Linked DNA regions of Homo sapiens. The protein of the gene in region 1 purifies or fractionates together with the protein of each later gene. This does not show direct contact. Each region holds a gene or a part of one and is shown in the gene's direction. Other genes may lie near its edges.

Region 1 (2,751 bases):
TGGGAAAAGGGAGCTCACGTCACCTGAGAACACGGTGTGGGGTGTGAAAACGGCCGCCATCACCTTGAGCACCTGCCCTGTAGACTGACACAAGAGTTCCCCCTGGTTTACACCTAAGGAACCCGGAGCTCAGAGAGGAGACGCCTCTGAGCATGGCTCCCAGCTGGTAAGGGCCTCAGCCCAACTCTCCTGATTTTCAGGCCAGGGGCCACCCTCTCCCCGTCCCTGGAGGACTTGCCAACGCACAGGCGCGCATGCACACCAACAAAGGGTCAGGACTTGAGGAGGATGCCTGGAGCACGCTTCTCCTGGCTGACTGTTTCTTCCTCTCCAGTCGTTTCCTCTGGTGGGCCTCTCCAGGGCTCCGCCGGGGTGTGGCCAAGACCCTCGAGGTGGGGTGTGCTCAGAGCAGGGGGCCTGAAGAATGGCTCCTCTGTTTACAACACACCCAACAGGAAGCTGGGGTCATCGTGATGAGGGGCACAAACTTGTGGCCTCCCTACAGACAAATGCCCTACATGTGGACCCCCTGCACCTCCGCATGGCTTCCGGGGAGGACCAATGGCAAAAGGCTTTGAAGGCCTCACTTTTGCAGGCAGAAGTCCTGGGAGTGGGTTTGGGAATGAGTGAAGGGCTGGAGGGGCAGGACAGTCCTCTTCCAGGAGCTGAGCTGCGGCATCGGGTTGAGGAGGGGCCCCCTGGAACCCATCCGTTCAGCAACAGGTCTGCTTGGCTAGCAGCAAAGTTTACTTTCCTCTCATGCCAAGGTACCTGGAATACAAGAAGATCCCCAACAGCAACCCACCTGAGTATGAATTCCTCTGGGGCCTGCGAGCCCGCCATGAGACCAGCAAGATGAGGGTCCTGAGATTCATCGCCCAGGTAAGGGAGCGCCTCTGTTGGGTGCCCGGCACCGGGGGTGGTGCTCTCCACACCTTGCTTGTTTCTTGGTCGAGGCCTCCTTCCCATTACCCCGTATTCCAGTGAGGGTACCAAACACTCACAGAGGCACCTGAGCACCCTACACAAGGTCACAGATGGGGCAAAATCCCAGGTCTGGCACAGGAGAGTAGGAGCCCCCAATCCCTGTGGTCCTGATTTTTGCCATCATTGCACAAAGCACACGGGAGGGGGTGAGGCGGGCCGCGGGTGCTCAGCCAGTGTGGGGTAGCTCTGTGTCTATGCCTGCCCTTTTCCTCCTCAGAATCAGAACCGAGACCCCCGGGAATGGAAGGCTCATTTCTTGGAGGCTGTGGATGATGCTTTCAAGACAATGGATGTGGATATGGCCGAGGAACATGCCAGGGCCCAGATGAGGGCCCAGATGAATATCGGGGATGAAGCGCTGATTGGACGGTGGAGCTGGGATGACATACAAGTCGAGCTCCTGACCTGGGATGAGGACGGAGATTTTGGCGATGCCTGGGCCAGGATCCCCTTTGCTTTCTGGGCCAGATACCATCAGTACATTCTGAATAGCAACCGTGCCAACAGGAGGGCCACGTGGAGAGCTGGCGTCAGCAGTGGCACCAATGGAGGGGCCAGCACCAGCGTCCTAGATGGCCCCAGCACCAGCTCCACCATCCGGACCAGAAATGCTGCCAGAGCTGGCGCCAGCTTCTTCTCCTGGATCCAGTAAGAGTTTCGGTAGAGAAATGAGACTCTGCAGGAGGGCTGCGGAGGGGGGTGAGATGTCAGAGGGAGGGCCAGGGTGGGGGCGCTGGGGGCAACGGCAACAGCATGGACGGACACTTATTTTGTTACGTACACCCCTCCCTGGTTCGCGTGTGTCCACGGATGTTGTCACTTTGGTTTCTTGTGCTTTTATAGGCACCGTTGACGAACTGCAGCGATCTTACTGGCCAAGCCAGAGCGCCTCCTCTCAGATTCCTTCTCGACACAGCACCCTAGGCGGCTTCTTCCTGTCAGTCGGAGGTGGCATGCAAGATGAAGCTCTCTTTGCTCTTCCTGCTTTCATTTTGTGCTTTTCCTTGTGTTTTCATGTTTTGGGTATCAGTGTTACATTAAAGTTGCAAAATTAATTTGGATGTTTCTTCCTTTACCTGCACACCCATTGCTATACCTGGCCACGCTTGGGCTTGTAGCAAGGAAACTTCTTCAGGCTCTCTGGGGTAGGTGGGCCCCACCTCTGCCAAAAAGGCCCACAGGGACAGGTGGGATGCTGGGAGGTGCGGAGGTTGGTTACGCCTGAGTGCGTGAGCAGGAGTTTGGAGAGGCCCCAGTGCTCATCGTTATGTGATTTTCTACAAACCTTGCTCAGCAGCCCCAGGGACATGGCAAGAGTCGGGGCCACAGCAGGGGCGGGGTGGAAAATTGCAGCTTGGTGCCACTGCCCCTCCCGCCGAGGGACAGGGTCCAAGGCTCTCACCAGGACCCACCTCCCACACCCCCTCCTTGGAGATGATGTTCCGGAACCCTTGGCTCATCATCCACACAGTTCAGGACCCCGTCCTCGGTACAGAGTCTGACGGACAATGAGGTGGGCCCCGCAGTGATGTTCGCAGCCCTCCAGTGGGTAGAAGGAGGGGCCGTGATTGCTGAGGGAGCAGGATGTAATAAAAACAACGCACGGTGCACGCGTACACAGCCCCTTGCCTGTGACGGAACGGCGGCCTGTTTGGAGCTTCGCAGCCCTTCTCCCCCAGCAGCAGGGCTCTCCCAGTGAGGACAACACCAGGCCTACCTAGGTCCTGGTGTGTTCAAGGGCTGGGTGATGTCTGGAGGGGTCTG
Region 2 (3,822 bases), on another chromosome or scaffold:
ACTGCCACGTCTGCCTACAAGGGTGCAGTGGTAGTTCGGGCGGCAAGGGAATGGAGAAGAGCTGGCCATAGCGCTCTGACCAGGCTCTTGTAGCCTTTCTTTTCTTTAAAGTCTGATTGCCTTTAATAGGGTTAAGCTCCCTGAGGGTTTTGTGATTATTGTTTATATATGATATTGCCATCGTAATTGGATAACTTCTAGGCATTTTACAGTATAATGTAATAAAAATGTACTTTCATAAAAGTAAATTCAATATAACACATTTTCTGTAAGACAGTTTGAGATGAGAGAATTATTTGACTTCCGCCAACTCTTCCCAGGAAGGCAATTTTAAGATGAGCCATTCTCTCAGTGATGCCGGGCCACTGCTCTCTGGATATACTGAGATACAAGCTGAATAGAGATTTGTAGGAGGTTGGCAAAAAATTAAAATCTGAAAACCAGCTGAACTTCCTTGTGCTGTCTTGAAGCTTTTGATTTGGGATTTAATTTTATATTTATATGTTAGTGCAGCTTTACTAATACACGAACTATTGGTGATACAAAAAATCCCAGGGGGCTGAGTTCTGGCATACCTAAATACTTCTGGCTGCCAGTGGGCTACAGCAGGGTTTCTCAGCACTGGCACTATGGATTGGCATTTTGAGCTGGGCATGTCTTTGTTTTGGGGGCTGTTACTGTGCATTATATGATATTCAACAGCCTCCATGGCCTCTACCCAGTATATGCCAGCAGCATATCAGTTGTGACACCCACAAATGTCTCCAGGTATTGCCAGAAGACCCCTGTGGGCACGTATACCCAGGTTGAGAACCACTGGTCTAAATCATTTCACTTTCTCACCCAAAGGTTTTAAGTACATTGAGGAATGTTTTCTGCCAAAAAGAAGGTAGCTTTGGAAGCAGGACTTTAACTGTAAAGTTATCTTCACAGTAAGAAATTTAGCCAGCATGTTAAGACACTGAAAGCTGGCTTTGCGTCTGGCCTCTTAAAGGTTGAGTGATGCGGATTATTGGATGTGGAAAATGATTGCATGTGGCTTAACTGGGTTTTTTGTTTTCCTTCATTTTTGTAGCTCACACATATGGGTGTAAATCCGCTAGAAGCTGAAGAACTCATCCGTGATGAAGATAGTCCTGATTTTGAATTCATAGTCTATGACTCCTGGAAGATAACAGGCAGAACAGCAGAAAACACCTTTAATAAAACCCATACATTCCACTTTCTGTAAGATTATTTTAAAAATCCAACAGACCAGTTATTTGTGAACCTTAAATTGCTTTTTCTTGTAGGGACAAAGATTATTTGGTATTGTAGAGGTGACAGTCATGATGCCGTTGTTTGGAGACTTTTGAAACTTTGATATGAAAGTTCATAAACACTAGGCCGGGTGTGGTGGCTCATGCCTGTAATCCCGGCACTTTGGCAGGTGGATGCAGGTAGATCATCTGAGCTCAGGAATTCAAGATCAGCCTGGGCAACATGGCGAGAACCCATCTCTACCAAAAATACAAAAAATTAGCCCGCTGTAGTGGCCCATGCCTGTGGTCCTGGCTACTTGGGAGGCTGAGGTGGGAGGATCACTTGAGCCTGGGAGGCAGAGATTGCAGTGAGCTGAGATTGCGCCATTGCACTCCGGCCTGGCTGACAGTGAGACCCTGTCTCAAAAAAGAAAAAAAAGTCCATAAACTCTAGATGTGGATGGAACCTTAAAGGATCTCTCATTCTGCTTTAGCAGAAAAGGCCAGAACCTCTTTACCAGTGCTCTCCTGGCTCCTTTGCTTCTAGCTCATGAGACTCTGGGTTTATCATCTTTAAAATCCTTATCATATAGGAGGATGATACCTCCTACTGAGGGTATCTTATGAGTCTCCCAACGTCTAAAGTGACATTTATTATAATACCCTGTTAGATGACCACTGACTTGTATTTGAAGATTACTTGTCACTGCCACATAAACTGTCCAGTTCATTTTTTAGATAGAACTCTGATTTAAAAAAAAGATTTCTTTATATTTGAATGAAGTTGGCTTCTGTCTTAACTTCCTGGCATGGTCCTATGGAGAAATTAAGAACAGCTCTTACTGGCTCTTCTCTAAGAGGACCTTCAAGTATACTGGTTTTGTTGCCCAGTAAATACTTTAGGGTAGCCATCTGAGTTGTTCAGTCCTTCTTTAAGTGGTATAGCTCCTGGGCTTTTGTCTTTTCTAATTTGTCTTTCTAAAAACCATTGAGATTGATAGTAGCTCGGGTAGAAGGCCTTGGAGATGCCAATGTAGTAGTGTGGTGTGGGGTCTGGCATCTATTTTTAATAAGACTTCAGGTAACTCAGGTGCCCAGAGCCATTTGTGTATGTTCTATTTAATAGGATGTAGTCCAAACTTCTTCATCTTAGGATAAAGTCTAAATCTTTGTTTTTTGCTATTGTACTAAACTCATAAATCCTAGGTTATAAAGATAAAGCCTTAAACTTTATCTCATCATCCAGCCCAATTTCCAGCCACAATGAAGTACTTAAAACTCTGTGTCTTTGTACTTGCTGTTCTCTTGGCCTCCAATTCCTTTTCATCTTTTCCATTCGGTAAAGTTTGTTTATCCCACAGGCCCCATCTTGGAAGCCTCCAGCAACTTCTCCAGACAGAGGTGTTAGCAGTGTAGGATCAGATTTCTCAACCACGTCACTCCCATGTCTGGGTAGATATCTCTGCCCAAGTGTTCTCATAGCACTTGAGCAGTACTCTCTAAGCGCCCAGGATCTACCATGTTGCTTTTTTAAAATTTGATTAATTTATTTTTTTATACTGCTCCTTGTGGAGCAGGAGTGTTCCCAGAGTAGCCCACCATGTTATATTGAAATGGATCTGTGTGCATAATGCAGCTGTCCATCTACATCGTATATTTTTGTCTCCTCAAGGGTAGGGACCACATGAGCCTTATTCTTGGGGCTTTGATCTCTACATGATGCAGACTTACATCTATTACTGTAACCCAAGTCTGCATGAGGGCAGAATCCAGAAGGAAAAGGAATCCCATGGCTGTGACTTGCCCTGTTATCCTAAGACAGATGTGTTCTGTAGTCCTGGGCTGGGAGCCTCTGCCTTGGCCTCCCCAGATCAAAGTCTTCTGACCCCACTGGAGCTTCCCCACATACATGTTCATCCTTCCCCTGCTCTTAGAAGTTGGCTTTGCAAAACAATAGGTTGGGTGGTGGGAAGATGTCACAGGCATATTCACTGGCCTACTTTACAGGGCAGTATGTAGGTGTCTGAGGAGGTATCTGTGGTTGAGTAAAGCTCCTAGGAGTTCTTTTAGAAATACAAAGAAGGCAGAAAGGCTGTCACAAACCTTATCAAGAGTCTTACTCTGATGTCAGCTTGTATATCACTGATGTCTGGTCTGAATTTGACTATACCATGCAAACTACTTTTAGTTAGTAAAGTTAGTTTGTTTAACAAACAACAGGCAAAAAAAATAAATGAAAGCATACTTTTCATTAGGTTGGGTTCAATATACGGAGAGTGCCCTGTGCCAAAGCCACGAGTTGATCGTCCAAGAAAAGTTCCTGTGATACAAGAGGAGAGGGCAATGCCTGCCCAGGTTTGTTTTAAAATGTTGCTTTTAAAAAAACACATTAAAGTTAAAATAGCTGTTAAAATAATGTGCATGCAATTTGGCCATTTTTTCTAAGTGTGCGGGTCTGGAGCCAGGTTTTGTCACTTAAATAATCATTTTATTTAAGCCTTTAAGCATTTTATTGGATTGGCTGCTTGTCTTTGTTTTAACTCATTTCTCTAGTTTTGATCAGTTCTCCGAAGCCAGGGTC

What was found.
Region 2: the proteins of MAGED4B (region 1) and NSMCE4A purify together in Homo sapiens (affinity purification with western blotting, with the first as the bait; one study listed by BioGRID). This does not show direct contact.

The regions. Positions count from the first base shown.
Region 1 is NC_000023.11:52,061,118-52,063,868, reverse strand, and holds the end of MAGED4B (melanoma-associated antigen D4), read left to right. Parts: intron 1-118; coding exon of another isoform or gene 119-166; intron 167-395; exon of another isoform or gene 396-522; intron 523-767; coding exon 768-882; intron 883-1,204; coding exon 1,205-1,635; coding exon of another isoform or gene 1,636-1,639; exon of another isoform or gene 1,640-1,647; intron 1,648-1,830; coding exon 1,831-1,840; 3' UTR 1,841-2,042; downstream 2,043-2,751. UniProt on the Homo sapiens protein: May enhance ubiquitin ligase activity of RING-type zinc finger-containing E3 ubiquitin-protein ligases. Proposed to act through recruitment and/or stabilization of the Ubl-conjugating enzyme (E2) at the E3:substrate complex.
Region 2 is NC_000010.11:121,965,060-121,968,881, reverse strand, and holds part of NSMCE4A (non-structural maintenance of chromosomes element 4 homolog A), read left to right. Parts: intron 1-1,075; coding exon 1,076-1,227; intron 1,228-3,496; coding exon 3,497-3,596; intron 3,597-3,822. UniProt on the Homo sapiens protein: Component of the SMC5-SMC6 complex, a complex involved in DNA double-strand breaks by homologous recombination. The complex may promote sister chromatid homologous recombination by recruiting the SMC1-SMC3 cohesin complex to double-strand breaks.